Regions from separate parts of the Homo sapiens genome. Here all the other regions are linked to region 3. The links come from fine-mapping of genetic effects on gene expression. A gene starts in region 3. Each other region holds a variant in brackets. All regions are shown on one strand. Distances are from middle to middle.

Region 1 (8,107 bases), 61 kb after region 3:
TGCAGAATGGATGTTGTATTAGCAGGCGTAAAATATTAATATCCTTGTACACCTCCATCAGAGCTTTTGGGTGACTAGGCGCATTGTCAATGAGTAGTAATAGTTTGAAATAAATCTTTTTTTCCTGAGCAGTAGATCTCAACAGTGGGCTTAATACCTTCAGTAAACCATGCTATAAACAGATGTGCTATCATCCAGGCTTTGTTGTCCCATTTATAGAGCACAGGCAGAGTAGATTTAGCATAATTCTTACGGACCCTAGAATTTTTGAAATCATAAATGAGCATTGACTTCAACTTAAAGACACCAGCTGCGTTAGCTCCTAACAAGAAAGTCAGGCTGTCTTTTGAAGGCTTTGAAGGCAGGCATTGACTCTCCTCTATAGCTTTAAAAGTCCTAGATGGCATCTTCCAAAAGAAGGCTGTTTCATCTACATTGAAAATCTGCTGTTTAGTGTAGCAACCTTCATCAATTATCTTAGCTAGATCTTCTGGATAGCTTGCTGCAGCTTCTACAACAGCACTGGTTGCTTTATCTTGCCCTTTTATGTTATGAAGATGGCTTCTTCTCTAAACCCAGGAACCAACGTCTGCTAGCTTTAAGCTTTTCTTCTGCAGCTTCCTCACAATTTTAAGACTTCATAGAGTGGAAGATACTTACAGCCTTGCTCTGAATTAAGCTTTGATTTATGGGAATGGTGTTGCTGGTTTGATCTATCCAGACCACTAAAACTTTCTTCATATCAGCAATAAGGCTGTTTGCTTTCTTATCATTTGTGTGTTCACTTGAACAGCACTTTAAATTTCCTTCAAGAACTTTTCCTTTGCATTCACATCTTGGCTAACTGTTGGACACAAGAGGCATATATTTGGGCTTACCTTGGCGTTTGACGTTCCTTTCTCACTAAGCTTAATCATTTCTATGTTTTGACTTCAAGTGGGAGATGCGCAACTCTTCTTTTCACTTCAACACTTATAGGCTTTTGTAGGGTTATTAACTGGTCTAATTTCAATATTGTTATGTCTCAGGGAATAGGGAGGCCTGAGGAGAGGGAGACGAGATTGGGGAACAGCCGGTCAGTGAAGCAGTCAGAACACATGTAATATTTGTCAATTAGGTTTGCCATCTTATATGGACATAGGTCAGTAATTACAATAGTAGTATCAAAGATCGCTGAACACAGCTTGCCATAACAGCTATGATAATAATGAAAAAGTTGGAAATATTGTGAGAATTACCAAAATGTGACACAGAGACATAATGGGAGCACATACTGTTGGGAAAATGACACTGAGAGACTTGCTGCATGCAAGGTTGCCGCAAACCTTCAATTATAAAAAACACAACCTCTGCAAAGCACAGTAAAGTGAAGTGCAGTAAGACAAGGTCTGCCTGTAGTTATGTGGATCTGTTTCTGGGCTCTATTCTGTTCCATTGATCTATTTGTTTATTCTTTCACCAATACCACTTGGTGAAAGAGTGATTTTACTGTCTTGATGACTGTAGCTTATTAATAACACTAGAATTTGCATCATGACAGTCCTCTGACTTTGTTCTTTTCCTTCAATGTTTTGTTTTATTTTTAAATTTAATTTAATTTACTTTTTTTGAGACAAAGTGTCACTCTGTTGCCCAAGCTGGAGTGCAGTGGTGCAATCTTGGCTCACTGCAACCTCCACCTCCCAGGTTCAAGCGTTTCTCCTGCCTCAGCCTCCCGAGTAGCTGGAACTACTGGCACGCACCACCATGCCCGGCTAATTTTTGTATTTTTAGTACAGACAGGGTTTCACCATGTTGGCCAGGATGGTCTTGAACTCCTGACCTCGTGATCTGCCTGCCTTGGCCTCCCTAAGTGCTAGGATTACAGGCGTGAGCCACTGAGCTCAGCCCTTCTCCTTCAATATTTCAATATTGAGTTGGTTATTCTGGATCTTTATTCTCTCCACGTAAACTTTAGAATCAGTTTGTTGACATCCACAAAATAACTTGCTGAGACTTTAATTGGAATTGCATTGAATTTATAGATCAATCTGGGGAGAACTAACATCTTGACAGTATAAAACATTCCTATCCAAGGACTTGAAATATCTCTTCATTTATATAGTTCTTTTTAAATTTCTTTCATCAGAGTTTTGTAGTTCTCATTTAGATTTTGTATGTGTTTTGTTCGATTTATACCTAAGTATTTTATTTTGGCAGGTGCTAATGTAATGGTTTTGTGTTTTTAATTTCACATGTTATTTGTTTGTTGCTGCTATATAGGAATATGTTTGACTTTTGTATATAAACCTTATGTCCTGCAACCTTGCTTTAATAACTTATTTATTCCAGGGTGTTTTTTTGTTGATTTTTTTAGATTTTCTACATCAACAATTATGTGATCTGTGAACAGAGACAGTTTTATTTCTTCCTTCCCAATCAGTATAGCTTTTAGTTTTCTATTCTTTTCTTGTCTTATTGCATTCACTAGGACTTCCGGCCAACACAATGTTGAAAAGAAGTGGTGGGAGGGGACAGCCTTGCCTTATTCCTGATTTTATTTAGAAAGCTTCTAGTTCCTCATCATTAAATATGATATTAGCTGTAGGTTTTTTGTTGATTTTCTTTATCAAGTTGAGGAAGCTTTCCTCTATTACTAGTTTATTTAGAATGTTGATCATGAATGCATATAATTTTGTTAAATGCTGTTTCTGTATCTGTTGATATGATTATGTGATTTTTCTTCTTTAGCCTTTAATGTGCTGGATTACATTAACTGATTTGTAAATGTTGAGCCAGCCTTGCACATCTGGGATAAATCCCACTTGTTAATGGTGTATATTCTTTTCATGTTGTTGGATTTGATTTGTTAATATTTTGTTGAGGATTTTTGCATCTATGTTCATGAGAGTATTGGTCTGTAGTTTTAAAAAAGTTTAGGAATCTGCAATAAGGCATGATTATGTTTATTTTGATCTTTACTATTCAGTAGCTCTTAGTTTGTGAGAAATCCTAAACTTCCCAGTCCTGTCAAAATTGGTCACTTATATATGCCTATAAAATATTGGTTAAAAATGATTTCATATAGCCAACTTTTTGTAAAATATTCATTCCCTTGTCTCTGAGAGTTTATTTGCTCTTGAAAGAAAATTGTGTTTCACCCAATTTCCCTGAAAAATATCTGTGATGTCATCTTTATTCTTTCAGAGATCAATATTTCCCTGAGAGTTTGTTGGGATAAATCAACACTGCATTTTAGCTGAGGTGACAGCTGGTCCTATCGATTAGAGCAGGGCTTTTGGAAGCTTTTGAGTGTAGTACGTGTTTGACTTAAGGATTATGGCTATAAGGAGGTCATAGATTACAGCAAAGAAGTCTTTTGAGGGTAAATGTGAGTATACAGTGTCTTCACTAGGATAATCTGTGTTCCTTGTGGAATGCAGTTTTCTATTTGATTCTCAACAGCACTCAATTCTTTTCCCCAGCAAAATCCCTGAATTTTGATTTCTGGCCACAAGGTGGCATCTGATTTTCATTAATACGGGAGCCACACCCCTTCATCTCTCACTTCTCAAGCTGGAAACTTCCATCTGTCTCAACTTCTGGACTCTTATTGTAACAGATTTTTGTCCCCATGGCAGCATTTGTAAAGGAAATTACATTAACTTGTGTTTGTCTAGGGGCCTAGAACTAAACCTTCCTGTATTTAGTTGAGTCATGTTTGTGTTAAGGCATCCTCCTACGTTTTTAATGTTTTTAATTGATCATTGTGTAGAAAACTTATCATAGCTTTTCCCATGTATTTCTATGGCTGAGAGTGGGGTCATGCACTTTTTTAACATATGCTTATCCTATGCTGCATGTTGTTTTGCTTGCAAGTAGGAAGGTGCAAAGAAGCCCTCTTCAAAGACCTAGCTTTTAGGTGGGGTAGACGCAAAGTGCATGCATAAAAT[A/T]GCCGTAAAGGAAAAACTCACAGGCACGTTGTCTAAGTCTCAGACCAGTAGTACGAGTAAGGTCTCTAGATCTGTGAGAAAAGGCATTAAGAGAGATAGGTTCACCATTGCACAGCACTTGAACAGCACTGGCACAGCACTGGCACATACTAGATACTAAATATATATATATATATATATATATATATATATATATATATATATATATATATATATATATATATATGTTGGCCAGGCACAGTGGCTTATATCTGTAATCCCAGCACTTTGGAAGACTGAGGCAGGAGGGTGGCTTGAAGCCAGAAGTTTGAGACCAGCCTGGACAATATAGTGAGACCCTGTCTCTACAAAAATAAAAAATATAATCAGCCAGGCATGGTGACGCATGCCTGTAGTCCTAGCTACTCAGGAGGCTGAGGTGAGAGGATTGCCTGAGCCCAGGAGGTTGAGGCTACAGTGAGCTATGATTGTGCCACTGCATTCCAGCCTGAGTGACAGAGCGAGACCCTGTCTCTAAAACAAAAATTAAAAACAAACAAACAAAAACCTACGGAATGAGTGTATGAAGAGGCCTAAGAAGCATTGCATGGAAGAATGGGGTGAAACTAACTTGAAAATGATGAGTGTGAGTTGGACGGAGGAAGTCAAGGAGGAGGCGTTGCCACGTGGAGAGACAGGGTGCAGGAGGCGCAGGAGCAGTGTGAGGGGCCAGAGTGTAAGAGGAGGAGAGTGGTCTGGCCTGCACTGGGATAGCCAGGTCTCCACCTGGGCAGGGCCCTGAGGTCATGCTGAGGTGCCTGTAGTTTCCCCAGAGGAAGTTGAGAACAATTCTTATGGATTTTTTAAAAAGTGTGAGTCTAAAATTCAGCTGAAAAAAAAAAAAGTGAAGCACAAAGCCCTGTGGTCAGTGGGGGACCCTGAAAAACACACAAAGCACCTACATAAATAATAACCTGGGCAGCATGGGACATGTGTCCTTAGGTGGTGTAAAACTTGAGCTGGATTTTTCAGAGAAGGAAGCAAGATCCTGTCCAGCTGGCACAGCAGGGATTGCTGCAGGGCAAGTATCTGGGACCCAAATCTGCTGTAATAATAGCTGACATTTGAATGTCGGTTTACAGTTTGCAAAGTCTTTTCAAACATTACCGTATGTGATGCTCACATTATCCCTGTGGTGTCAGCACAGTTACCGTCCCTGCTTTACACATCGGGACGTTGAGGCTCAGACAGGTTAAATGACTTGACTTCCCCAGAGTCAGTCTGGTCATTTGGGTCTGACCTTGCTTCTTGAAGGACTGGCAAGATGGGGGCCAGCAAAGGATCTAATGGAAAAAGGTGTGATTTCTCTCACTTTTCTTCTGAATTAAAGATGGTGATAGACACAGTTGCTGCTACTATGAATGAAGGCACAGCTTTTCCTGTATTATTTCCTTATATGATTTTGCCATATAATGCTATGGTTTTGCCATATAATGCTATGGTTTTATTCCTCAGTGAGAACATAGGGGAAAGGGACTGATAAAATGTCATCAATTGAAAACAACCAAGAGCAAACTATCTCAAGGTTTTAGCCAAAATGATGTCAGTCTACAGTTGAAGCCATCTGCCTGGTTTTCTTTCTCCTTTTATGATCTTTGCATTCCAGGAGCTTATGATCTTGTTGCCAAGAGGAAGCATGTGTGTGCTCACTGCAGCAGATCTTGGGGTGACTTGTGGTGCATCAAACTGATTCCCATGGATTCGCAGCCTCAGGGCTTTCTCTGAAGCCCAAGGAGGTGTGTCACACCAAAGAGGTGACATACACCATTGTGTGAGTTGTGACCTGAAAGCACAAGAAAAGGGGCAAGATAAAGCCTCCAAAGGCAACCCTAACAATGAAGGCAAGACCATGGCCATATGGTCCAGCCACCTGTCTTCAGTTAGGACAATTCCCAGGCACATTCTATGTGGTTCCTCAGAGGATTCCAATGTGGTTGAGGCCCAGTTGCTCACGATGTAGACCATTAATAATGCATCCTTGGTTGGTTCCTTCTTCCCTGTCTCACGTCGTATACTCTTCTGCTTTCTGGCATCGTCTTCCAAATAAACAGCCTGCACTAAAGTCCTTGACCCATGTCCTTGACTCAGGCTCTGATATTTGGGGAACTCAAACTAGAAACACATGCATATTTGCTCACTTGTGTTTCTAGAAAAGCTTGCTCTACAAGAGATGCATGCACCAAGTCTTCTATGATCTCAGTGGAGTGGGGCATTCCAAGGTACTGGGGTGGATGGAGTAGGCTTTGTGCAGGAGGAGAGACTTGCCCAGTTGTCAAGTGCAGCCATACTGGCTTTGAGTGGGATATACCAAGGGGGGGCCATTCTAGGAAAGATGGATGGACTGTTGTGAACAAAAGCTAGGGGCTTTGGAAAGAGCTGAGAGAATGAAGAGGCTTGCTGGCCATAGTAGGTATTAGACTAGGGGACAGGGAGATAGGTTTTAGACTGGGAGTGGTGGGCTAGCCTTGGTGATGTTAGATCTTGACAGCCCAGGTGTCTTTCTTTGCTTGCAATTTATTACAGGTGGTGGCTTTGCTTCCATTTTGAGCTATACTGTGGAATAGCTTAGTATGTGGAAAAGGAATGTACTATTCCTTTTCCATAGCAAGCATTTCCCCAGTGAATTGTTAAGCCCAGATTTACTAGTTGAAGCATCTGATTTTTCCCTTCTTGCCCCTCATCCTGGGCTTGGAGCCTCCTTCCCTCTCAGTCTCTCCCCAGCCTCAGCTTCCTCCAGAACTATTCATTGTGCTTTAGCCCATTCAACTCTCACAGCTTCTTCACCTTGACAATTTGGGGCTTTAAGAAAAGATTTGGCAAAGTGCCTTTTCCACGTACCAGCATCTGTGCTTGCCCCTTTGATGTTTTGTTAAGGTAAGTGCTTGAGTGTTGGCAATAGCTCTCGGTATATTCTAGGTGTCTGGTGATCCAATGGTACCACTCAGGGATTGAGTTTTTGAAGGGACCAGGAGATCTGCTGGCTCACAAGAGTGTCACTGCCTGGTAATTTTTCCTTGCTCTCCTAGAAGGCTGACTGCCAAATCAACTCTCGCATCAAATCCAATCCATTGGTTCATGTACCTGCTGTGATCTTGGGAAGCCTAGTGCAGTAGTGGTCCCTGTCACAGTTTATAAACTCCTTTGTTTGGCAGGAGACCCTAGCGACCTACTCCTCCCCATATCACTCAGCAATACTTTTGGCTAATAACCCTGTATAATTGCATAATATTTCTAGATTGCAAAGCACTTACCTAGACATTGACTTGCTGTCTCATCTCTGTAATTGCATAATATTTCTAGATTGCAAAGCACTTACCTAGACATTGACTTGCTGTCTCATCTCTGTAATAATCCTGTGAGGTAAGCAGGACAACTATTGTTTCCATTTCATGAATAAAGAGACTGAGATGTTTGGTGACTTGCCCAAGATCACATAACTGGCTAGCATCAGAGGGATCTGGAAACCAGGACCCATTTACTATTAGACCACACTGCTAAGGGAGACAGCAAGAAGCATAAGATTCAGTCTTTGCTTGGAGGATCCCAGAGTGCTGTTTGAGAGAGATCAGATCAGCAGGAATGAAAAGGAGACATTGGGTTCCAAGTGCCAAGTGAATTCTACAGACGGCATGCGATCTAGGTATAAAGAGGAGAGATTGCTCATGATAGGCAAGGCTAAGAAGGAACACAGAAAGTAGTTAAAAAAAAAGCAAAATAAACAGCACTTACATGGGAGTACCTTTTACAGCTTGAATAAGGGCCATTTTGGGCAATAAGATACAGATGTAAAAAGAATGAGTATCTCCTAAATGATACAAACAAATCTAAGAATGGCAGAACATTAAATAATCATTGAAGTTGGCCAATATTTATCTAACTTTAAATGCCAGGAAAGATAGCCATGACTTTCTGCTGTGCCTGCAGGAGTCATGACTAAGCTGAAGATGGTGCAATTCAGAGCCATGAGACCTGGGTTCAAAAGCCCACTTTCTAGAGAAGGGACATTGGGCAAGTTGCTGAGAACCTTTGTGGTTATTTTCCCTGTTTGGAACATGAGGATACTAATTTTCAAGCTCAAAAAGTGGTTGTGAATATGGAATGACTAATACAAGTGAAACTGACTGATGGTGTTAGAA
Region 2 (8,107 bases), 19 kb after region 3:
CTTTCAGGAGTGATGAGCTCAGTCTTCAGGGATCCTGCACCTCACGGGGAGGAGTTGGGAAAGGCCCCCCGAGGAAGGAATATCTCAGTATCTCTATCTAGACCTGAAGGAGATGTGGATGTTACAACTAAACTGTATGATTCTCTGTGTCCCTGAGAACATCACAGCCTATTTCCAAGGTGCCTGGCCATCCCCAGGGTGCCTGCATGCCACTGACACTCTAATCTGGGGTTCTGCTCTGAGCTGAGAAAGTGTCTGTGGTTTGGGGTCATCAGGTGGCAGCTCTTCTCCTCTCTGTTCTGAAATCTTAATTCCCTGTTTGACTGCCTGGTGGCTTTCAGAGAAGCCCAGCCTCCTCCCAGGTGGGAACTTTCACTGTCGAACTAAGGACCCGAGGAGGGTGGAAACAGGAGGAAGGGAGGCTAAGCGGTCACATCAGAGGCATTTCTGCTCATCGTTGGCTCATAATAGGTGGCAGTAGGGGCTGGTGGAGCAGTGGCCAGGTAAGTTGCTAAAAATAAAACATGCTCATGTGACGTGTGCAGGTTTAGGGTTTGCCTGAGTGAGCTTTCCTGGTCCAGGTCACAACTTGTAGGGCAAAGAGAGACTTGAGGATGGTGTAGGCGACAACTGTGCCTTCCAAAGGTCAGAGATGGACCTGGGATCTTGTAGTACCAGGGCCTGCTCTGGAGGCTCAGATTCGTGTGTCACTTCTTGTCTCTTTTGAAAGGTAACTGGAGAGCTGGACACTTTCCTGTCCTCTCTCTTTCCTTGTAGCCTTCCTCTCTCAGAGATGGCCTGCTATCAAATGCCAGGGGCACAGTCAGCTGGGCTTGGTAAAGGGCCTGAGATGAGAGCTTGGGGACTTTCCCACTGGAGTCCATGATAGTCCAGGGTGTAGACAGAAGCTCTTGGATCTCACAGCTTTGGAAACCGAGTCCTGTTTCTCCAACAGGCCAGTGCGGTGACGGGCACAGACCTGCTGTCCTCTCTATTTGTGTGTCCACTGATTCCCTGGCACAGGGGGTCTTTGTTACAAAATCTCTTTGCTGGGTGCTTTGAAGGAGCACGTGTGTGGGCCTTTTTCAGGGTGGTTAGACAATGCCAAGCTGTCACTCAGAAGAAATGGTCAGGATAGAAGCATAGAAAATGCCCTGTGGAAATGTAGATGAGTGTTCTGGCTCACACCTGTAATCCCAGCTACTCAGGAGGCTGAGGCAGGGGGATTGCTGGCGGACAGCAGTTCGAGACCAGCCTTGGCAACGGAGCAAGACCCTAACTCTAAAAATAAAAATAAAAAAATAGGCCGGGCGCGGTGGCTCATGCCTGTAATTCCAGCACTTTGTGAGGCCAAGACGGGTGGATCACGAGGTCAGAAGTTTGAGACCAGCCTGGCCAACATGGTGAAACCCCGTCTCAACTAAAAATACAAAAATTAGCTGGGTGTGGTAGCAGATGCCTATAATCTCAGCTACTTGAGAGGCTGAGGCGGGAGAATCACTTGAACCCGGGAGGCAGAGGTTGCATTGAGCTGAGATCATGCCATTGCACTCCAGGCCGGGCAACAAGAGCAAGACTCTGTCTCAAGAAAAAAAAAAAAATTGGTTTTGTGTGGTGGTGCACACCTGTAGTCCCAGCTACTCAGGAGGCTGAGGTGGGAAGATTGCTTGAGCCCAGGAGTTTGAGGTTGCAGTGAGCCGTGATCATGCTACTGCACTCTAGCCTGGGTGACAGAGCAAGATCCTGTCTCTAAAAATATTAAAATGAATAAATAAAAGAACAGAAAATGACCTGTGTGGGGAGAAGGGTTATCTGTGAAAGGAGTTAGAAACCTCAAGTGTACATAAGTAAGACTGGAGATCTCTCTGTTAATGAAATTGTGCTTAAAAATTTTTTTTTCTTGAACCTTGGCTTCTCAGGCAATAACTGAATTTTAAGGTGTGTGTGTATATATATATATAGGTATATATATATATAGGTGTATATATATATATATATATATAGTGTATATATATATATATATATATATATAGTGTATATATATATAGTGTATGTGTGTGTGTGTGTGTGTATATATATATATATTTGGGCCAGGAAGGGTGAAGTGTTAAATTGCCTTACTTAGAAAATTAAGGTAGATTTGTATTTAGCCCTTAGAGCTTCAAAAATATCAGCTCAGAAATGACTTTTAATTGTGCAGGTGATAAAATCACAAGAAAAAAATTCATCTACAAGTTGGAATGACTCTTAGCTACTTATTTGTTTTTAAATTTTTTTTTCAAATTTTGGAAGGAAGTAGAGAAGGAGTTAGAACTGTAATTTGCTATTATGGGGGTTGGGGTGCAGTGCGTATTAGTACAATGTTAGGTGGTGGCAGGTTCCGTTTATCCTTGGAATTAGCACTGCTCCCCCCACAGGCTTCTGGGAGTTGGGAGCAGGCTGGTTGGTGACGCTTTGCCTGGCCTTGGATAAGAACTCTTGTTTTCAAATTCCCTTGAGGTCTCTTCCAAGAATCTTTTGCATTTTTTCTGATAAATCAATCATAAGGAAGTTTCTGAAATTCTCTTTCAGACCCTACAACCCACAAGTTACTGCAAAGCTGGGCTTCTACCAGAAGTGAGTGATTTGAAATTGAAAACAGATTTCGGATCTCACCTGAGTAGCTCGAGTGTAAGGGAGGGACTGGGAGAGCCACAGAGAACATTTGTCAATCCAGAACCAACCATTCATGGTGTTGCTTGACTGGAGGGCAGGGAAGGAAAGGACTAGAAGCAAGGCGAAAGCAGATCTTTCTGTAGATACACACATATAAGTCTTGGATTTGCATTTTAGGGTGAATTGTAATTAGCTTGAGATGACCAGGGGCCCACCAATCAAGCAACTCTGGGAAAAACACTTGTCTACATCTTAAGTTTCTTTGTCTATAAAATGTCAAGATTGAACTAACACTACATGATTCTCTCGGGAACTCACCAGTTCTAAAATTTCCACTCCTTCTTTTCACAGGGCAGTGTAACTTTAACTCCCTGTTTCAACTTTGGGTGTAAAATACAGGCTCACAAGCACTTTTGCTTTGCAGCGGAAGCTAGGAAGACCCTGCTGTGGAATTTTGCAGAGGGGCTGAGCAGTGGTGGGAAGGACCAGCGGCCCATGTACCATGTTGGGCCCCTGCATTCCAAGGTGTCTGCCTAGAAATAAATGATAGTTTATTTAACATACTTGTAACTTCCAACGACAACACTTCAAGACTGCAAATCATCCATCCGGGCAATTACAGAAATGCTGAACGGCCACAGCCCCGCCCTGGAATCAAGGGAAGAAGTGTGGCAGATGCTTCTGGAAGGCTCTGTTTACAGCTCTCTGACTCCTTCCTGCCAGAACCTTTCACAAGTTCACTACCAGGAAGCTGAGTCATCCAGGGGTCAGCCGGCATGGCCAAGGTCACCCCGCACTGCCAGCAGCACAGATGGGGTTAGCCCATCATTCCAGAGGAGCATCCGTGGGAATGATGGGGTTGGGGAGCTGGGGAGCCTCCCTGCAGCATCTCCCTGCCATGGTGTTTTGCATTTCCTGTAGATTTCGCAGTGAGAAACGGTCTCCTCTTATATTCACTTCATTTCTTCTCTCTTTCTTTCTTTCTTTTTTTTGAGATGGAGTCTGTCTCTGTCACCAGGCTGGACTGCAGTGGCGCGATCTCGGTTCACTGCAACCTCTGCCTCCCGGGTTCAAGCGATTCTCCTGCTTCAGCCTCCTGAGTAGCTGGGACTACAGGCATGTGCCACCACGCCCAGCTAATTTTTTGTATTCTCAGTAGAGATGGGATTTCACCATGTTGGTCAGGATGGTCTCAATCTCCTGACCTTGTGATCCACCCGCCTTGGCCTCCCAAAGTGCTGGGATTACAGGCGTGAGCCACCACGTCCGGGCTTTTTTTTTTTTTTTTTTTAGACTTGTTGCCCCCCCAGGATGGAGTGCAGTGGCGCAATGTCGGCTCACTGTAACCTCCACCTCCTGGGTTCAAGCGATGCTACTGCCTCAGCCTCCCAAGTAGCTGGGATTACAGGCATACACCACCACACCCGGCTGATTTTATAGTTTTAGTAGACACTGGGTTTCTCCATGTTGGTCAGGCTGGTCTCAAATTCCCGACCTCAGGTGATCTGCTCACCTCAGCCTCCTAAAGTGCTGGGATTACAGGCATGAGTCACTGCGCCTGGCCAAAGGCAAGAGATGAGGACCATATAGATGGAAACACAGCATTAAGGGTAAAACACTCTCTCTCTGCTCTGTCTGGTGTTCAGGGCCCAGCATGGGCTGTATGTCCTACACTTCGTTTCAGGCTCATCTTCAGGTGACACCAGCCTTCTCGGAGCCTCTGTCCACATCCCACCTGTCACTACCTCTGCCCTAACTTCACCTTCAGTGGTCACTGCCAGGACCCCTCCCCAAATCTAAATGAGGTCCCCCTGCATTTGCCCTCATTGCACCTTCTACTTTTGCTTCATGGCATTTAGAGTTTGGAATTTTTTATCGATAGGATTTTTAGTACTCTCTCTCTCCTCTACTAGACTATAAACTCCTTGAAGGCAAAGACGACACCTGCTCCCTCAGTTCCAGCAGCCCCTAACACTGCGCTGACATTTAGGTAGTAGCAGCGTTTTCTTGCAGAACGATCCTGTAGTTTTACCAGCTGAGACTTCTGTGGTCTGGGGAGTCACTCATCTCTGGTCCCTGCCTCCTCCTCTCACTTTTGGAAACCCTTCTGGCCAGACGGCTTTGGTTTAAATTGTATGCCGGAGCTCTTGGTTCCAGGGAGAGGGTTTTAGCGTAAAAATCTCACTCATGATGGAAGGTTCCTGCTATTACCTTTTGCATCCAATACAACTTAAATTGACTCCTCCAAAAGCTTCGGAAGTAATTT[G/A]TACCTATTGTCTAGCATAAATTCAGCAAGTGGGTCCCGGAGGCTGAAAGTCGAGTCTTGCGGTTGTTTCCTCTGGTGTTTCTCCCTGAGACCCTTAGAACGGCAAGCCTGGTGCATCTGGTGTCCTGTCATCTTTCTCTGTGATTGTCATCAGTGTGAAAGGTGAAAGGTGTGTGGAGAAAGAACATCCCTTCGAGCTGTGGCTTAGAGCTGTGACTTGGCACCACGTGGTTAGTCACTATCAAGTTAGAAGCCTTTGTGGGAAATCTGGCTTTGGTAGGATCTGGGAAATTTGGACCCCTCATTTGCCCCCTGGCATCTCTAAATTCCAGAGCCCAGCTTTGATGGGGCTTACATCCCCAGCTGTTAACCTGTGGGGTGGGCCCCAGACTGTGGCCAGGTGCATTGCGCTAGGGGAGACAGATCCACAGCAGGCAGAATTTGAGGAGGACTTAAAATACCTGCTTTGGGAGGCCAAGGCGGGCAGATCCCCTGAGGTCGGGAGTTTGAGACCAGCCTGACCAACATGGAGAAACCCTGTCTCTACTAAAAATACAAAATTAGTTGGGTGCGGTGGCACATGCCTGTAATCCCAGCTACTTGGGAGGCTGAGGCAGGAGAATCGCTTGAACCCGGGAGGCGGAGGTTGTGGTGAGCCGAGATCAAGCCACTGCACTCCAGCCTGGGCAACAAGAGCGAAATTCCGTTTCAAAAAAAAAAAAAAAAAAAACACAAAAAAACAAAAACCCGCTTTGTTACCTGCCTGTGGGTGGAATTGAGTTCATCTCTGAATCCGTGGTAGTCATTTATTGAGCACGTGTTTTAGTGAGCATGGCATGGCGCTGGCTCCGAGATCACAGTGCTGCCGCCCTCCTTCACGTTTCTCTGACCTTTCATGGGAGTCACATGCAGACGCATCACTTGGTATAATTATACGTGGAGGAATGAGCAAGAGGAGGCTGGCGACGGGACTGCTTTAAAAATCCCTTCTTCTGTGGATAATAGGCTAATAGCGGGGTGTGCTTTAGAAGGTGTGGCCTCCGCCAAGGGCGTGGGAACTGCATTTGTAGAAGCTGGGAGGACCACACCTGGCTTGGGAGACGGCATGGGTTTCTGAGGTGCCTGGCTCCCTGGCCTGTCCAGTGTGGACAGCTTACGCGCAGCTAGGTGAAATGATTGTGCAGTTGCTGAGGGATTGGGTGGCAGAGCTGGACAGAATTTAGGTCTTCTAACTTGGAACAGGGCTGTGTCCATCTTACCTAGGTGTACAGTTTGGGGAGCACTGCTGTTTGGTCTAGTGAGACACACTTGGTGTAAATATCTGTGCCCTGTAGTACCCAGATTCCAAGGGACCAGAGAGCATGCCCGCACCCACGGGCTGGCGGGAGCCCAGGTCCTCCAGGGCTGCTGTGGAGCATGGGCTTCTTGGTGCCCAGTCCTATAGCTGAACTTGGGCGGCCTCTGGCTGTTGCCCCCAGGGCTGGTCTCCCTATAGTTCAGAGGCGAGCCAGCTCTCAGCAGCAGGGAGGGCCTTTTCCATAGTATGAACTTGGCCACACCAGACCAGTCAGCAGTGTCGGGAATCTTGGCCCTCAAGGTCCCTGCCTAGCCCTGGCCTGGACTTCAGCACTGGTCAAAGGTCCCCAGAGCTGCCCTTGGCTCTGAGCAGGTGAGTGAACTTCCCAGAGCACTTTTGTCTGGGCCTCTGTGCCAGTGTAAACTGATAATAGTGATTTCCCTGCCCCACCTCTCTGCCAGCTATCTAAGTTTTCTTTGTTACATAATCAGGATTAATTTAAGCAGCCTAGGCCATCCATTTAGAAATGGTTAGTGAAGAAAGGTGAATGGGGAGGGGTCAGAGTCCCTTAGGGGGCCACCAGGTGCGAGTCCCCTTGCTCTTTGGGGCCTTGGTTTCCCTTCTGTGAGTTGGGGCAGCTGAAGGGAAGGGCTGCTCAGGTGGTCCTGCCACATCCCAGTGTTGTGTCTAGTGAGTACAGGTGAGAGTGCTCCCAACCAGGGCAGATCCTGCTGCTAGGCAGTGAGTCAGGAAGGAATTGGTAAAAATGACGTCATTGCTAAGAATGACGTCTTTTTTGCTGTTTATCCAAAGGAAAAAAAAAAAAGCAGAAATAAAAGCAGCAGGCAGCTGTCCACCAGACCCCATGCAAAGGGCTTTTCCTTGAATCCTCACAGAGACTTTAGGCAGTAGGTGCCATTAGGAGCCCCACTTACAGATAAGAAAACGGGGGCAGAGAACTGAAGTGAGTCGCCCAAGGACACACATTGAGGAGGAAGCAACAGAGCTAGGATTTAGATACAGAGGGGTCTCCAAGCCTGTCCTTCCAGCTTTGAGGTCCTGGGCCTATATATTCCATCAGAAACTGAAAGGTGTGTTGGGGGGTACCTAGGGTCAGGATGGGGTTTTATTTCTGTCCCTTCCTTGTGATGCTGCAGGGACTGTGACCTGGAGTTCCCAACACCAGTGCCCTGTGGCTGGTAGCCTCCTCCTGGGACTCCAGGATCTATTGTTTGATTTAGCCATTTTCTTCTGTAGTCCGATGGGAGGGATTCAATTCAAACCTGCAATACTGTTCTTTGGGCCATACAGGCCATTTATCAGCAAGTAGAGAAAAACACCCACACCTTCTAGCAAGATTAAGCTAGTTCTGTGGTTCTTAATGATAATTTAAGCCATTTTGATTAACCTAGGTGGTGGTTTTCTCCCTACCAGGTAGGGAATATACTGGAGCCTTTCTAAAAATAGTTCCGGTGAAGATAAACATTTATTGAGTACCTACTGTACTCCACTAGGTGAATACAAGGATTTCTCGTTCATCTCAGGAAGCATGGTTAGGGGATTTTACAGACGAGGGAACTGAAGTTCAGGGAAGTTAAGTTACTTATCCAAGTTCATATAGCTGAAAAATAGAATAGGATTTCGACCTTGTGGTAGGTGGAAACCGGGGTTGTCTTTGTGCTCTCAGGCATGTGGCTGGCGTGGGGTAGAAGCTCTCTATATAATGGTTGAGTGACTGGATGAGCTTCAAAGCTGGTCCCTCTGGCTTTTCCTGCTACCCCAGGCCACGTGCCCAGAAGGAACGCTGTCTTACCTGGGAGGTCTTTATTGACTGTTTGACGCCCTTCCCATCCTATCCCAACCCCTTCCCCATGGCACCTAGTTTCCCC
Region 3 (8,107 bases):
AAGACTCCGATAGAAGCAACAAGTCATTCTGAGCTTCCTGGCCTGCCCCATGGGAGAGGACCAAATGAGCTGCCACTCCTCTGCTCCTGGTTGCCATGTTCTTGCCTTTCAAAGAGAGAGCTGCTCCCTTCCTGATGGCAGTGTGGCCCAAGCACTGGGTTATGCTGTCTGGGATGCCACCCTCTCGCAGCATGCCTTCCCTAGAGGTCTGGGAGCTGGACCGGCTGCTGCCTTGTGACATCCGGGATGGCGCCTTCATTACTATGCCCTTTCACTGCTATGCACAAAACCGTGGGGAGGGGTTTAGGCACAGATCCACACTGCCAAACTGGCTTCCCAAGGGACTGGCTACCTCTGCCATGGCCTCAAAGGCAAGGAATCAGAAGGCCACCTACAAAGTCACGGTGCGGGGATCGGGAGGCTGCCACTTATCACTGCTGCACCCCCTCATTCCATAAATACCTCTCAGCATCCATGAATCTGGTGACCAAACACTGCCATGCTGTTGCAGTGGGGAACCCACTGCCCGCCCCAACTGTTCCTGCCTCAAGTGTCTGTGACCTTGCTAGGCAGCAGAAAACACCAAAGAACAGGAAGGGAGCTTCAGCTCATGTTCACTTTCCAGATCTTTCCAATTCATCTATTGCCAGAATATAATTCATGGCTAGACCCTTGGCTGCAAGAAAGTCTGAGAAATGTGGCTTTACATGTTCTGGCCACTGCAGTCCAAGGAGGAGTGCAAGATGCTAAGTGCCAAACCACCATATCTACCATAGGTGGGGAGAAAAAAATATTGAATTCTGTTAAATAATCAATATTCCAAAGATTTTCAACTGTTTCTAACATTTATTTAATGAAATTAAACAAAAATCACGTCTGTGAAGATTATGGGCATATTCACATTTGCTAAGAATTCTCTTAACCATCAAAAGGCAACTTCTTTCCACTGGTATCACCATTGCAAAGTTCAGGGGGTTTCTCATCCATTAGGAGGTGTGTGTGTGTGTGTGTGTGTATATATATATAAAATATATCTTATACATATGTATTATATATAATATAGGTATACATATAATATACATACATATATAACAGGTGTATATATGTACATAGATGTATATATGTATACATAGGTGTATATATCATATATACATAGGTATATATTAAATATGTGTAAAATATATAGACGTGTATATATCTTATATATAAAATATAAAATTTATATAAATTATAAAATATATATAAAATAAAATTTATATAAATTATAAAATATATATAAAATATAAAATATATATAAATATATATAAATATAAAAAATATATAAATATATATAAATATAAAATCTATATAAAATATATAATATAAAATTTATATAAAATATATATAACATAAAATTTATATAAAACATACATAAAATATAAAATTTATATATATAAAATGTACATATTTATACATAAAATGTATATATATTTTATATATACACATGGATATGAATGCTGAGAGGCTAAGTAAAAAAATACATTTATATATACACATATATCTATATATATTTATATACACAAATCAACATATTTTATATATGTACATATGTGTATATTCTATATCCTATCTATATATCTTATACATATGCACATATCTATATTCTATACATATATACTTCTATATATAGATGTGTGTATGTATGTGTAAATATGGTATATATTTCCTAAAAAGAATGGTTTTTTATTTTTAAATTACAGAAATAATAAAAGTATTATTTAAAGTCTGAAAAATAAAGTCAAAGCAGTTGCCTATAAGCCTCCATCACTAGCACAGTAACCATGCGATTCTTTTCCTGAGCACATTTACATCTTTGTGAATGCAATGGTTATAGAATTTCGTTTTGTTTTTTTCACCTAACATTACATTATAATCATCGTCCATGTCGTGTAATGTAAATTCCACTTGTAAAGGCTGCATAATATTTCACTAATATTATGCACACATCATAATTTCCTTAGCCATTCCCTTCTGGTTGACCATTTAGGTTGTTTCCAATGATTTACTGCTCTAAGGAATGCTTTGAAGAAGAGCTTCCTGTGTATTTGGGTTTTTGTTACATTCCCAGAAGTGGGGCAGTGGGTTCTTACAGACTTAATGCTTAAAGGGCATCCACTTAAAAATAAGGATCAACAGCTTCTGATCAGTATTTCTTAAAAACGACCTTTGACAAAAGTAGAGTTTTCTCTAGCCATTACAGAGATGGCTAAGTAAAAACACAGAGCCTGTTTTTACTTATCACATCCTTAGCACTCAGCTTGCCAGCTACTATCTGCAGCTACCAAAACTAGGCAAACAGTGCTCTTGGTCCTGACGCCTCTATTGACCTCTACCCATGCTCACATTACTGTATCTCAAATCCCTAAGAGCTGCTTGGGATGCTGATCACGGTGAGGGCAGAGAGTAGGCTCAGCCTCTTCAGGGTCTTCCCCACCCTTTCATATCTCAGGATCCAGCTTTCCTGACGAGAAGCCTTGTCTAGATAAGGCAGGGAGGCCCTGGTGCCTACAAGTTGATCAGCCCAAGTCATCTTAAGCCCTGGAACACGCAATTTAGACGGACACTTCCAGAGGCAGACAGGTCCCTCCCCTACTTTCTGATTTCTCCCTTTTTCCCCAGACTGGAGCAAAACAATATTAAAACAGCCTGGGTTACACTTTATTGAAGAGGCCAGCTTAGGACGACTTTAAGAACTAGGTGACCACAGTCTTAAGACAGGCAGGGGCAAGGCTGTAAGATTTTACTCTCAGCCAGTTCACACTCCTAACTGTGAGATCAGGCCTCTACAGACCTTATGGGCCTATCAAACCCAAAGAAAATTTCCTGGAGGTGCCTACTCAGAGGGGCTCCCTCCTGGTCACTCCTTATAGCCTTGCTCGGTCCAGGGCAGGGTGGGTTCGGTCTCTCGGTGAGAACAAGAGGAACACATTTAGCTCTGCATTATGTATTTAGGTTGAGAGAAACAATTTCGAATGAATGGGGGTCTCTCCAACAAAGCAGTCTAGAACGGGCCCCTGAGGTTTGAATTCAGGCCTTAGGAATGCCAAAGCTCACTGAGCGATTCTGTTTGCAAACCCACCCGCCACGGGGACGGATTTTCCCCGAGACACTGTCACCCATGCCTCCAGCTCTGGGCATACCCCACTGCGGCCCCTCCCCAATGACCTCCCCTGCCCCTCGCGGACCAGCCCATCCTCAAGATAGTACAACTTTCCGGGCCACCCCACGTCTCCTCTCGCCCCCGTCCGGTTGCTTGGAAATGTGCACGGGACGGTGACGTCACACAGGGAGGCGGGTCCCCACTGTCCCGCACACCAATGGCGCGGCGGCCGCCGGCCTCTTGGTTCCCGGCGATTGGTGTCTCTGGCCGCTGCGCTCCACCCCAGCCCGCCATGGCGTCAGGCGCCGCGGCCCCGGGGAGGTGGCTCCCACTTTAAGAAGTGAAGTTTTGCGCCCCTCCCCCTCCCTGCCCACCTCCTGCAGCCTCCTGCGCCCCGCCGAGCTGGCGGATGGAGCTGCGCAGCGGGAGCGTGGGCAGCCAGGCGGTGGCGCGGAGGATGGATGGGGACAGCCGAGATGGCGGCGGCGGCAAGGACGCCACCGGGTCGGAGGACTACGAGAACCTGCCGACTAGCGCCTCCGTGTCCACCCACATGACAGCAGGAGCGATGGCCGGGATCCTGGAGCACTCGGTCATGTACCCGGTGGACTCGGTGAAGGTGAGGCGCGGGGAGACTTCGGGGACGCAACGAGCGGAGAAGGAGCGCGCGCGCGCATTTGCATCCCGCGCGCCGGCAGCCTCGGGGCAGCGTCCCGAAACCGAGCTCTCCCCAGGACCGCGGCTGGCCGGGGTCGCCCCAGGAGCAGCTGCGCGCAGCCTGGGCGCCGCGCCTTCCGCCGACCCCGCGAGGGTGCCCGGTCCTCGCCCCGCACCGCCCGCTGCTCCAGCCGCGTGCCCGGCCCCGGCTGCTGGCGGCGCTGAGGCGGGGGAGGCGGAGTGGCGAGCACCGCTGGCTTCGGCGGCGACTGGGCTCCCGGGGGACGCGATCGCTGAAGCTCTGCACAGTCTTACCACGCTGGCCGTTCGGGCTGGCTGGGGCCGCCCACACGTGCGCGGTTTCCGAGGGAGCTCCCCGCAGGGGAAGCCCTCACCACGCTGGAGCTGAGAAACGTGTGGCCCTGGCCCGGCCGCGCGCCCTCGGGACTTGGTGTGTGGCTGCTGCTCCCCGGGTTATTTCGGGAACTTGGGGCCGGCAAGTCTTCTCTCGACTAGTGGCAGCTCTTTACCGGTTCGACAGCGGCCCGTGGGATCCCCTTTCTGAGGGTTCCTGCACTTCTTCCCCCGACTTTGGGTCGCCGAGCCGCCGGGAGGCAATGACGTTTGCCTTCTCCTTTTGCTTGCGGGGAGGTGGGTGGGCTTGTGCCTTACAGCCCTTGCTGTGGATTGTGTGAGAGGCACTCAGTTTCCTTTAAACCCTGTCTGTCACTTGCCCCGGTAGTTTTAACTGCATTTCTGTAAAGAGGCAGCGTTACTAGGTGCGTTTTGCCTGGTAGACTGAGACCTGCCCTCTGTCAGCCTGCCCAGAACACCCCAGGGCCAGGATAGAGTAGTGCAGGAAGTAATGCCAGTATTGACTGTTACACGTTGCACTTTTATAGGCATAACTCGCCTAATTCATGCAACAGCCCTGGGGGTTAACAGATGAAGAAACTGAGGCGCAGAGAGGCGAACCGATTACCTTGCCCAGGCTCCTACACCACCTCCTATCCTCTGGCTGCAGCTGCAGTGTGCTTTGGAGGATTCGGAGGCCTCTCTAGGTGGCAATTATTTTGCAAGGCAGGTCCCACAGAGGCACCCCCAGCAGCTTTATCTTGTTGCTGATGCTGGTCCTGCATGAGCAGGTATGAAGGCCAGAAAGTATAACTCAGAGGGTTTTCCCGGCTCCGGGGAGCTCGCTTGGAGCCAGCAGTCAGTGTCTGGACAGGCAGAAGTCCAGTGAGGAAAGACATGGGCTTCCAAGGTGCTGCTGGACCTAAGCCTGAGCCATCACCCATATGTCCCTCCAGTGTCCCAGTGGGGAGTTAGAGGAATGGTTCTCATCTCCAGGAAAGACACTGGACTGATACCAGGTGGCATTTGTATGGGAAAGAATCCCTCAAATGTAATAAAATTCTCCATGATTGAAGCTGTTGTCTCAACTGCCCTGGGCAGAGTCTGGGGAAAGTTAGGAGCAGGGAGGTGTTATCTGAGCAGGCCCTAGTCCTACTGGTGTCTTGAGATGAATGTTCTATTCGGGAACCCCACAGTGAGTTCACTTTAGAGCATCATTTTAGCTTATTTTTAGGATTAGAAATAATTAGTTGTGCCTTCTGAGCACCCTTTGACACTCTCAAGAGGCGTTTCTCACACGTTTAAATTGTGTGATCTGTGTTTAGTTTCTCCCTGCCCCATACATGTTGATATGTTTTGGTTCAGATGTCACCTGTATACTTAGTATTACTTTCCATAGCAGTTTTCACCTGTGGACAGGTTAACATGGTGTGAATGGTAGAAGGAGCCGGTCTGGTTTTCCTAGACAAGTCTGTAAAACAAGGCGTGGGTTAGCTAATCAGTGAAGTCTTCTAGGTTCTGGGATTATAACTGACCCTTAGGGGCCCTTCCATGCTGAAGTGTGCAGGGTTGGTTTTGAGGCTGCCACTGAGTGCCAAGGTCTGCCAACATCAGCACAGTTGTCTGCCAAGCATGAGGAGTCAGGGGTGCATCCTCCATCATGGAAAGGCTTGGGGGAGACCACACCTGTGTTCCTCTTAAGTATTTTGGATGATGGCGAAGACCGGGAGTAACTGAGTCAAGAAACCCGGGTTGGGCTTCAAGCCCTGCTCTCACTTGCTTCATGCCTCGGGCACTGTTCTGTGCCTTAGTTTTGTCACTATAAAGTGGGGACAGTGGACCTGCTCAGTCCCTCTCCACATTTTTAACCCATGCCTCGTTTCTCTGAACACACAACACCCATCGTCCTCTTTTATGTTACTTGAAATATCAAAAGAATTATTACAGCTGAAAACAAATCTATGTAAATCGGATCTTGAAAGAGAGAAAGCTTTCTCCAGTTTTGAAAGGCGCCATTTTTAACTTTGATCTTGTAATGACAAATAAGAATGTTGAATCGGCTGGCTTTTTTCTATCCTAGGTAATGTGGACTGTGGAGCTCTGTGCTGGTCACTTTCAACCCTGAACCTGATGCTACTTATTTTGCAGTTCTAAGTGCAAAGTCGGCCTGGTGGATGCTTCCCATTATAATATTAAATTTGCTTCTTCGTGAGGTCACACCTCACATCCCCAGTGTCACTTTAATAACTAGTGTTTTTTACATGGTGGGCCATGACCCATTAGTGGACTCTGCATTTAAAAATAAATAAATAAATAAAAGAAGTTATTAGTGAGAGTGTAAAAATACGGGTGTGCCTGGCATGCAGTGGGAGAAATGTTGAAATTCTGTTTGGGTTGTGTGTGTGTCTCTGAGTGCATTTTACAGACGTGTACAATGTACTTCTGGCTGGGAGTTGTGGTCAAACAAATATGAAAACCACTGAACCTGAGAAAATATCTCTGGAGCCCCAGCAGGCAACACTGAGATTATGAAATGGGTATTTGGAAGACCTTTGGCAACTTTCCTGCTGCTTCCTGTGTCTTCTTCTTTCCCTTGGTCCTCCCATGGTGGGATGTGAGCACTCATTCATCCATAAAGGGCCAGTCTACTGGGACCTTTGGCTGCCCCTGCGATGACAGTGAGCAGCAAAGTGATACCCAGGGAGGGAGTATAGGGTCTCTGCAGGGCTCTCACCAAATGGTGGCAATGACTTACTCCTGTCTAGGCGGGGTCTGGTGGCAGGTTTTCCATGAGCCTCTTTCTGGTGTTCCAGAGTGGCAAGGGGCACTTGGGGTGGATACAAGAACCCCTGGTCTGATCAGGAGAGCTCAAGACTTGAGGAGCATGCCAGGTGGGTGGAGGAGGAAATTCCAACCAGATTAGGCACACCACTCGGAGACCATGCCGAGTCCCGCCTGGGGAAAGCAGGGGCAGAAGGAAACAGGAAAGATTTGAAGCCGGGGGACTTCCGCTGACCCTTTCACAACCCTTCTTTTGCTTTGCTGTTGGGGGAAACCCTGCCTGTGACTCTCCTAGGATGAGCCCTCCTTCCCAGGTTGGTGCACCACGGAGCGTTCCCTCTAGGAGCCTCCTGGCTGACCTTATGGTGTGCACAGCCAGCCTGCCCAGCTCAGCAGAGCATTACCTCAACTTCTGACTTCTCCTCTTCTGAGTTTTCTCCTGGCTGCAGGCAGACTGGTAGGAAGGGTGCTGGGGGGCAGTGCAGGCAGCTGCCAGAGTCCCCTCCCACCCACTTCATTGCTTTCCAAACAAAGTGCAGTTCGGTCCATGCCATTCAGCTTCAGAAGGGCGTGAAATCCCAAATTGCTCTAGTTCCTGGGACAAAACTATAATGATTTTTCTCTCTCCCTTCTTGTCTCCTCTCCCTCACATCCCCCTGCTCCCTTCTTTTCTCTCCTTTGATGAGAGGTGATTTTCTTAAAAGGCGAATTTGGAACGAGGAATCAAAAAAGGGGTATTTGTGAGCTGCAGTCCTGTTCCTTGTTTCATGAACCCCCAGGCAGCCATGGCCTGTACCCCTCAGGCCTACCCTGAGGAGTGTGAGAACCTCATCCACTTTTCTCTGCCCTAAATTGGGGAGGGGCAGGCTGGAGCGTGGTTTGGAGGCGCGTGCCCAAGAGTACTGTGAACAGCAAAGGGGGCCTCAGCTTTTTAGTAGGGAGAGGTATTTGGGGTTGAATGGGAGGATTTAATCAGCTGCTTTGCTTAAACTATACAGGGGTGTGCACCTGGGGTGGGGGATGTGCGTGTCACCTGGAAGGGAGGAATGTGCTTCCCAAACCTTTTCCTGGCTTCCACTTGGGCACGTTTCAGCTGCATGTGGCCATCTCATTAGAGATGAGTTTTGTCCTGTCTTGCAGCAGTGACCAGTCTTGGGGAATCAGTTCCACTTTCTC
Region 4 (8,107 bases), 48 kb after region 3:
GTGACAAGAGCCAGGCCTATCTGCTAGGGCCCTGCGGCTGAGGTCTGACCTGGACCCTCATGCCCGAGTCGGAAGACCCCTCTCCAGAAGCCATTCTGCATCCTTGTCTGCTCTGCGTCACCCGAGAACACAGGCTTCGCAGCCTCGCTTTCTGAAATGGTGTGTGCCGAGTCAGATTGCCGCTCAGAGAAAATACAAGCCCGTTTTCCCTAGCTGTGCCATTTGGTGCTCTGCCAGGCTGCCGTGCAAGGGAATACCGACGAGACGAGCTGCACTGTCTCTGATTTGGAGCCCTCACCGGAGCTTGTCTTTAAAAATGAGCAGGAAGCTCATGTATGTTTGCATTTCAGTGAGCCGGGTCCTGACCTGCCGCCACCCATCACGGTCAGCGTGGTGCATCTTACCGAGGAGGCGCAGGCCTGGATTCTTTTGAGTGGTGCTACTGCCTAGGAAGTAACACGTGGAGAATTTCCATCTTGGGACCATGCACACAGTGCCTTGGGGAGTAGATTTTGCCCTAATAGCGATGAAGAATTTTATCAGTCAGTGGAGTTCCTTTTTCAGATCAGGGATGGGAAAGAGCCAAACTGGGTACCTCCCACGTGTGCCCCGTGAACAGCCCTTTGCAGCTGGGCTGTGGGGCTTGGCTGCTGCCCTGTCCCATCTGGCAGTTAACGCCTTCTCCCTGCTCTGCCCCCCACTCCCCAAAACCAGTTGCAGCCTCAACCCACATGGGGATGTAGAAAGCCGTAAAGTCCACGCTACTGTTGAAAATGTTTACATCTCCGCTCTCAACCTGCCTTGGGTTCGTGTTAAATGGTGTTAAATTCTGCAAATGGAGGGGAAAAAAATCAAATTCTAAATTTCAAAGTAGAATTTAAAGCAAATTTGTAAAAAAATTATCCTACCACCCCTTTTGGTCCACTTAAGATATGCCACGCTGAAGCAAGGTATTTCCTACTGGATTTTGCTTTCACTGGTGTTTAGAAAATAAACTTGATTTCTCTAGGAGCACTCCTTTGGTTAGAGGGATGCAAGAAGGAGAGGTGAAGGTGGCGTGTGGTGGCTCATGCCTGTAATCCCAGCACTTTGGGGAGGCCGAGGCAGGCGGATCACTTGAGGCCAGCAGTTTGAGACCAGCCTGGCCAACATGATGAAACCCCATCTCTACTAAAAATACAAAAAATTAGCTGGGCATGGTGGCAGGCACCTGTAATCCCAGTTACTTGGGAGGCTGAGGCAGGAGAATTGCTTGAACCCAGGAGGTGGAGGTTGCAGTGAGCTGAGATTGTGCCACTGCACTTCAGCCTGGGCGACAGAGTGACTCTGTCAAAAAGGAAAGGCAAAAACCGGACCCTGGAGCTCTGTGGGCCCTGATTGCAGGCCCCTCCCTGTGTGATGAGGGATGAGTCAGCTTGGGGAGCCACTTGGCCAGCCTGCATGCCTGGTCATCAGGAGGTTGAGAAAAGCCTTGAAAGTTGTGAAGCACTGAGCAGATACAAGTGTTTGTTAATTTTGTAGAAATTAACTTTCCCATCTGGCCTTTATCTCCAAAGTTGGTATTGTTGCTCCACGCAGACTGCAGTCCGGTTTCTTATTGTGACTTTGACAATGCAAAGTGCAAAATAGGAAGAGGCCTCCCCACCCCACTATCCCACCCTGGTGACCAATTCAGTGTAACCTTTGCACGTACTCAGTCATTGGTGTCTTTGGAGTGACATCTGCAGCCAGTTAGTGCCACCTGAGTACAGCACTCGTACTTTTACATGATGTGTGTGTGAGTAGCTCTTCTGTCCAAACCATGATTTGAGGTTCAACTACCTGTAGATCAAAGCTTTATTTTAGAACGATAAACTGATTTTTTCCAAATGGGTGAAATCTTCTCCCCATGACTATGTTTTCTTAACTTTGCATTGAATCTATTTACTGGGTTACATTCTATGTGTAGTTTGCTTTCTTCATTTTTTTTTCTTTTAAAATGCTCATGTCTTATTCCAAGCACCTTCCTCCAAAGTCCCCATAAAGCTGCATCTCCAACACATTGTTATGCCAATAAGGTTTTATTTAACTTTATTTAAGGATGATTGTGTCTTTGAATGACAAATGTACTGCTGCTTCCTACCTGCAAGACGAACAATGTATGTTTCAAGGGTGAGCAAGTGTTATTTCTTAAATTTCTCAAATGCCTGTAGTAACTATTGTTTCTGCCTCTCAATTGTTGCCAGCTCTTTGAAGAAGGGGAGAATTGTGTGTTTTTGTGTGGGGATGTTTCTGATATGCTGCTACAGTTGCAAAACACTGGAGCTAGAGAAAATAAAGTACTGATCTTCGAAGTGTTGTGGGCTCTGTGGTGGGAATCCTGAAATGAGAAGGGAGTGGATGGCAAGAGGGGACGTCCTTCACGGGGCCTATGCTTGTTCCTCTTGAGCACTAAGGACCAAGGTCTGCAGCTTTGATAGGAACAGCCCCTGCAACCCCATTTCCCCAGGGCAAGCAGATTGATGGTGGTGTTTGCATTGTCTTGCTGGGCAGGAGCGGGAGCCCTCCCACTGGCTTGGCTCACCATGCTGGCGAGGGTGGCACTTTTCTTTCTCATTGTGAGAGCCTGGCTGTGTGTGGCAGGCTACAAGTGGTTCTTTGGAACGTGCTGTGCTCATGCCTGTTTTCTCTGTCTTACACCTCAGCTTAAGCAAGAGAACGTGACCTCTTTTGGAGGTGGGAGGAGGGAAGGTTTGGACCCCTTTGAGAAGCCAGGGATGACTCTGATGCTTCCCACAAGTTTGAAAGTCTGAGCACCCACCTTCAGTATGACCACTGAAGCCCTTGGCCTGCCATGGTCAGGGTCAGAATTGAGGTCAGGCCTGAGACCTGGCCAATGCAGGGGTGCCTGGAGGTGGAAAGGGGTGGTGGTTAGCGGATGGGGAGCGTTGGGATAAACTCCCTGTTTTGTAATTTACCTATGGCCAATGCTGTGCTACTCCAACTTGTGGTTGCTTCCCCTCCTCTGGGGTGGGCGGCACAGCTGGTCTGCTTCCAGTAGATATGGATTCATTCAACAGATATCCCCCCTCTCCCTCCACCATGGAATCAGTCAGCCAACAAATTGGCTGTGCCTCCCATGAGCAGAGCCTCATGCAGGTGCTGGGGACAGAATGAAGTATATGATGTGGTCCCTGTCCTCGAAGGCCTTACAGCCTAGTAGAAGAGTACAAGGGGAGATGCAAACTCCTTAAGACAATCAGATCTTGACCCATCAAGATGGTAGCAAAGTCAGCCATGGAAGCAAAACAGTAGCTTTGTGCCCATTAGACCAAGCTTCATGAGACAGTGGCCTTGTCTGTCCTATTTGCTGCTTTATTCCCAGCCAGTGGTGTGCTGGGGCTGGCCCTGCACCAGCTCTCTAGGTTGTACAGCGCACATTCCTTCCCAGCTTCACATTCCATATTACCATGTTGGTAGCTTGAAATCAGCAACAGTGGGAATATTTACACCACAGAAATCGTCAAGCGCTACTTATCAAGGCCTTTGCTTTTCCAATAGCTGGTTCATCAGCACACCACTGCTGGCACATAGCATAGTGCTTGGTATGTGCTAGGTGTTCAGTGAAGATTTGCTGAGAGGAAAATATGAAAAGTAGAACCCAGTGTCAACCTAGGGGGCCCTTCTGTGGTGCCCCTCTTAGTTTGCCACCTGCCTCCTCATGGAGGCATCTTTCTATCACTCAAGAGCCCTCTCCAGCACGACCACATTCAAATTCCAGCCCTAAAAAGGCCATGAAAGGAAGGTATACCTTTCCTCTAGGGGCAAGGTCTCCTTACTGAGTTGCATGTTTTCTAGTTATCAGCTACCTCTTCCAGGAGAGACCTCTGCTCCTACCCAAGGAGGGGACTTAATGTGACAAACATTTCAGAGAAGAAGTAATGAGCCTAGTCTTGTACAAGAGAAAGACACAGCCAACTGGGCAGATGTGGAGGTGGGTTATGATTGCTTGCAAGGGAACAAAGCATTGCCTCTGGTCTAAGTCTGAATGCAGTGAGTAGCCTAAGAGAAATAAGAGCAATTTGGGAGAAAAGAGCTTGGTTTGCATCCATAAGGGCTTTGTAGGAGACACCCTCATGGTAAGTAAGCTGCACATAAGAGCTTTGACTGCCATTGTAAGAAGTTTGACCTTTAAGCAGTAGGTAATGGGGAGTCTTATGAAGAGTATTTGAGCAGGGGACACCATGATTGGAGCTTGGTTCTAGGGAAACTCATCTGGCTAAAGTGTACAGGACCAAGTGAAGAAGAAATACGGAGGAGGCCAGGAGATGGTCAGTTCCATGTCACAGTGAAATTGTCCAGAAGAGGGATGACTAAGAGAAAGGTGAAGGAGACTGAAACAGAATGAGTGGGACTGGATCGATGAGAGTGTAGAGGTGAAGTCAACAGAGGCCTGGGGGCGCAGGACTCTAGGGCATGCTGAGAACAGGCTGG[G/A]CTGTCTGAGAGGAGTAGGAAGACCTGGCGGTGAGGACTAATACATGGCGGCAGAGAAGATCCCTCATCTCTAAGTCCATGGGTCTCTCCTTAGTCCTCCTCTTCTTTGGGCATGGAAAACTCATCTCAAGTCCATGGGTCTCTCCTTAGTCCTCCTCTTCTTTGGGCATGGAAAACTCATCTCAAGTCCATGGGTTTCTCCTTAGTCCTGCTCCTTCTTGGCATAGATGCCTGATCTCCAAGTCCATGAGTCTGTCTTTAGTCCTCCTCCTCCCTGGGCATAGACTCCACATCTCTAAGTCCATGGGTCCCTCCCTAGTCTTTCTCCTTGAACATGCACAACACTTGAGGGCTCTCTCTTTAGCTCCCCTACTTGACTTCCATTTCCCTGCTTTCTGCTGGCCTCCCACCTCTATGACTACCTTCTCTGGCCCTTCACCAGCTTCAGCTCCTTTCCGGGCCACCTAAGTATGGCTGCTTGGAAAGGTTCTGCCGCTGGGGATCCTGTCTCTCCACACCCCCTTGGTGCTGATCTGCCCTCCTCTGGAAGATGATTCTTAGATATGGGGCTGTAGCACCCCGATTCTTCTCCTGAACTCCAGATTTCAATGTCCAGTGGCCTGCTGGAGATCTCTTGGATCTCAACTTGTCCTCCATTCTTAAGAGACTATCCCCCCTTGCTGCCAGAGGCTTACCGTGTTACTCAGTTGCTTAAGACCTTCAAGGGCTCTTCATTGTTGATTGAATTTAATAGGCTTTCCTGCATATGGCAGTTCCCAGTTTAGCTTCGTGTGTAAGGAAATGACTAGAGAGAAACAGAATAGGTCAGCAGGATGGTTGTGTAAGACCCTGAGGTCTTAATCTTCTTAACAGGGTGGTGCTGTGCTCTTTGCAGAACTTTGTTCCCATTGGAATGTCTTCCTTTCCTGCCACCTCCTCTCTGCTCATTCAAGTCCCCTTTTCAGGCTGCCTTGAAGATAGCATTTACTACCACATTGTGGAGCTCCTCCTAATTTGCCTGTCTATGTGATCTTTCTTTCCTCTTTGTCAGTATCTACAGCCTCTTTGACAGGCCTCCAACCTGCCATGGCTGACCTCACTTTGCATTTTTGCTGCCTTCTGCCCAGAATTATGTGCCCAGTGAGGGCAGAGACTGTGGTTTATTCACTCCTGTTTTCTCCATAGCCCTCCAGCCTACTGTTTCCCGCATTCTGCATAAGAGTGACAGTTATTGTTCGTTGTATGTAACAAACTTCTGATGTCCTGTTAAGCTTGAAACTCCTGTGGGACATCCAGGTGGAGACCCCCAGAAGGAAATGCAATATTGGTGGTCAGGAGAAAGGCTGGAACTGGAACAAAGGACCTGGCATATAGGCCAAGGGATGTGGTGGCCAAAGCCATGGGCAGAGGAGAGTCCCTAGGGAGAAAAACAATCTCGTGGAAGGCTTACATTTAATAGTGAAGAGAGAAATGGGAACCAGGAGAGGCTGGAGTGGTCAGAGAGTTATGAAGTAACCAAGAGGTGAGGCTTTTACAGAGGAGGGGTAGTAATCAGTTCTACAAGCTTAGGAGTGAAATATAAGCAACCAAAGCTATTAAAAAAAAAAAAACAAAAACCTACATTGTCTCTCCCTGCTCTTGTCTTCTTTGTTCCCGGTTTGTTTTTCCCTGCACTTACTCTCTTGCCTTTTTGGATTCCCTTTTAAATGTCACCTTCACCAAGTTCAGCTGCTTCCACACCTCCCCCTCCCCTGACCCCCTGCACCCAGCACCATTCCTACTGTATCTAGCATAATATTTCAGAGGCTACCTAAAGGCAATAATTAGACAAACACTCAAAACTGCACATCCCAGGCTTGTTCATGAAAGTGAAAAGCTGGAAAACAAACGATATCTATCAAGAAATTAAATGGTTTATAGACAATCCTGGCTGTCCTGGTATTTTTGTAGGAAAGAAATTTCTTTAACGGTCCCCAGCAACATACCATAAGATCTTTATTCCCAATACATTTATCAAATTTAGGATACTTCTGAGCTTCCCCATTTCTCTGGCCTTGCCTCCTAAAGGTAATGTTATTTTGGTAAACATGTGACCTCTCTTTTATGAAGCCATGGATATTACACAATTCCAGACTTCCAGGTTCCTGTTGCCATAGCTTCTTTAAGAAGCTCTTCTTTCCTTATGCTCATACTTACCTATGGTAGCTTTGATGTTTCATTTTCCATAGTAAGTGAGACTCTGGGCAGAGCACCCAGCACTACTGCTAAGAGGACACAAGGGCCACTTTAGCAGAGACAGACAGCCCAACCCCTGTCCACTGTCAGCAGAAACTCGTCTGTGACAAAAAGTATAAATCAAAATCATACCAGTGATGTTTTAGTCTTCAACCTGAAGCAGTTGAAGCTTGGGTGTCGCCTTGGAGTCCTGGTGTATTTCTATTGTTGTGAAGTGCTCTCAGTGTTGAATGGGCACCCGACTGCAACCTCATGAAGCCCAGAGCTGCAGAAAGAGGGACTGTGGACATCTGGCTTCTTCATTATTGTCATGCTGCCCCTTGGGGTGGCTGCCTTTAAGGGAAGAGGGAGTTTAAAAAGAACAAAGGGAGATATGTACCAAGGGTGTTTGTCCTCATCAGTATGTGAGTTCGTGGAAGGAGTTCTTGCTGCCTGCTGAACAGTGAAAATATTCTCTTGATGGACACCTTTAGCTTGGATTGACAGGTGATAAATATATATCCCAAGATTTCTACGTTGAGCCTAATGCAAGCAGCTGGTGAAATATACCAGCACATCCTCAATCTTTCCCTGATTGTGTCTGCATAAAGTTTAGAAATAAATAATGTGTGTATTAGTTCATTCTTGCACTGATGCTATAAAGAAATACCTGAGACTGGTAACTTATAAAGAAAGGAGGTTTAATTGGCTCACGGTTCCACAGGCTGTACAGGGAGCATAGCCAGGGAGGCCTCAGGAAAGCTACAATCGTGGCGAAAGGTAAAGGGGAAGCAGGCTTGTCTTACATGGCCAGAGCAGGTGGAAGAAAGAACGAGGTGGGAGGCACTACACACTTTTAATCAACCAGATCTTGTGATAGCTCACTATCATGAGAACAACACCAAAGGGGAAATCTGCCCCTATGATCCAGTCACCTACCACCAGGCCCCACTTCCAACATTGAGGATTACAATTTAACATGATATTTGGGTGGGAACACAAATCCAAACCATATATATATATATATATATATATTTTTTTTTTTTTTTTTTTGAGATGGAGTCTAACTCTGTTGCCCAGGCGGGAGTGCAGTGGCATGATCTCAGCTCACTGCAACCTCCGTCTCCTGGGTTCAAGTGATTCTCCTGCCTCAGCCTCCCAAGTAGATGGGACTACAGGTGTGTGCCACCACGCCTGGCTAACTTTAGTATTTTTAGTAGAGATGGGGTTTCACCATGTTGGTCAGGCTGGTCTCAAACTCCTGACCTCAAATGATCCGCCCGCCTCGGCCTCCCAAAGTGCTGGGATTATAGGTGTGAGCCACCCCGCCCAGTCCCAAACCATATCAATGTGCAAATTTTAATGTAAATAGTTATGGATATTCATAATGTCTTCTGTCTGTAGCTCTGGGCTTCATGAG

Which allele goes with the higher level. Alleles are on the strand shown, and positions count from the first base shown. SD is a standard deviation of normalised expression in the study named. Not every link is listed here.
For the expression in monocytes of the gene that starts at base 3,502 in region 3, allele G in region 2 goes with a lower level than allele A (large effect, 0.79 SD a copy in Quach 2016).

The links. PIP is the estimated chance that this variant, and not a neighbour inherited with it, causes the effect.
Region 1: its variant is fine-mapped to the expression of SLC25A37 in whole blood (INTERVAL, PIP 0.95).
Region 2: its variant is fine-mapped to the expression of SLC25A37 in monocytes (Quach 2016, PIP 0.95).
Region 4: its variant is fine-mapped to the expression of SLC25A37 in whole blood (INTERVAL, PIP above 0.99).

The regions. Positions count from the first base shown.
Region 1 is chr8:23,586,219-23,594,325 of GRCh38, forward strand. No RefSeq gene overlaps it. Among named protein-coding and RNA genes, the nearest start is that of SLC25A37, 61 kb to the left of the region's middle. The variant A/T (reference allele first, on the strand shown) is at 3,933.
Region 2 is chr8:23,544,551-23,552,657 of GRCh38, forward strand. The region is part of intron 1 of SLC25A37 (solute carrier family 25 member 37); the gene reads left to right. Among named protein-coding and RNA genes, the nearest start is that of SLC25A37, 20 kb to the left of the region's middle. RefSeq lists an enhancer at 5,794-6,295. The variant G/A (reference allele first, on the strand shown) is at 4,922.
Region 3 is chr8:23,525,455-23,533,561 of GRCh38, forward strand. SLC25A37 (solute carrier family 25 member 37) reads left to right here and starts at 3,502. Exons shown (of 4, transcript NM_016612.4): 1 at 3,502-3,758. The coding sequence starts at 3,549. RefSeq lists enhancers at 3,196-3,245, 4,536-4,605 and silencers at 3,376-3,735, 3,786-4,035.
Region 4 is chr8:23,573,131-23,581,237 of GRCh38, forward strand. It overlaps SLC25A37 (solute carrier family 25 member 37), which reads left to right. Exons shown (of 4, transcript NM_016612.4): 4 at 1-2,333. Among named protein-coding and RNA genes, the nearest start is that of SLC25A37, 48 kb to the left of the region's middle. The variant G/A (reference allele first, on the strand shown) is at 4,474.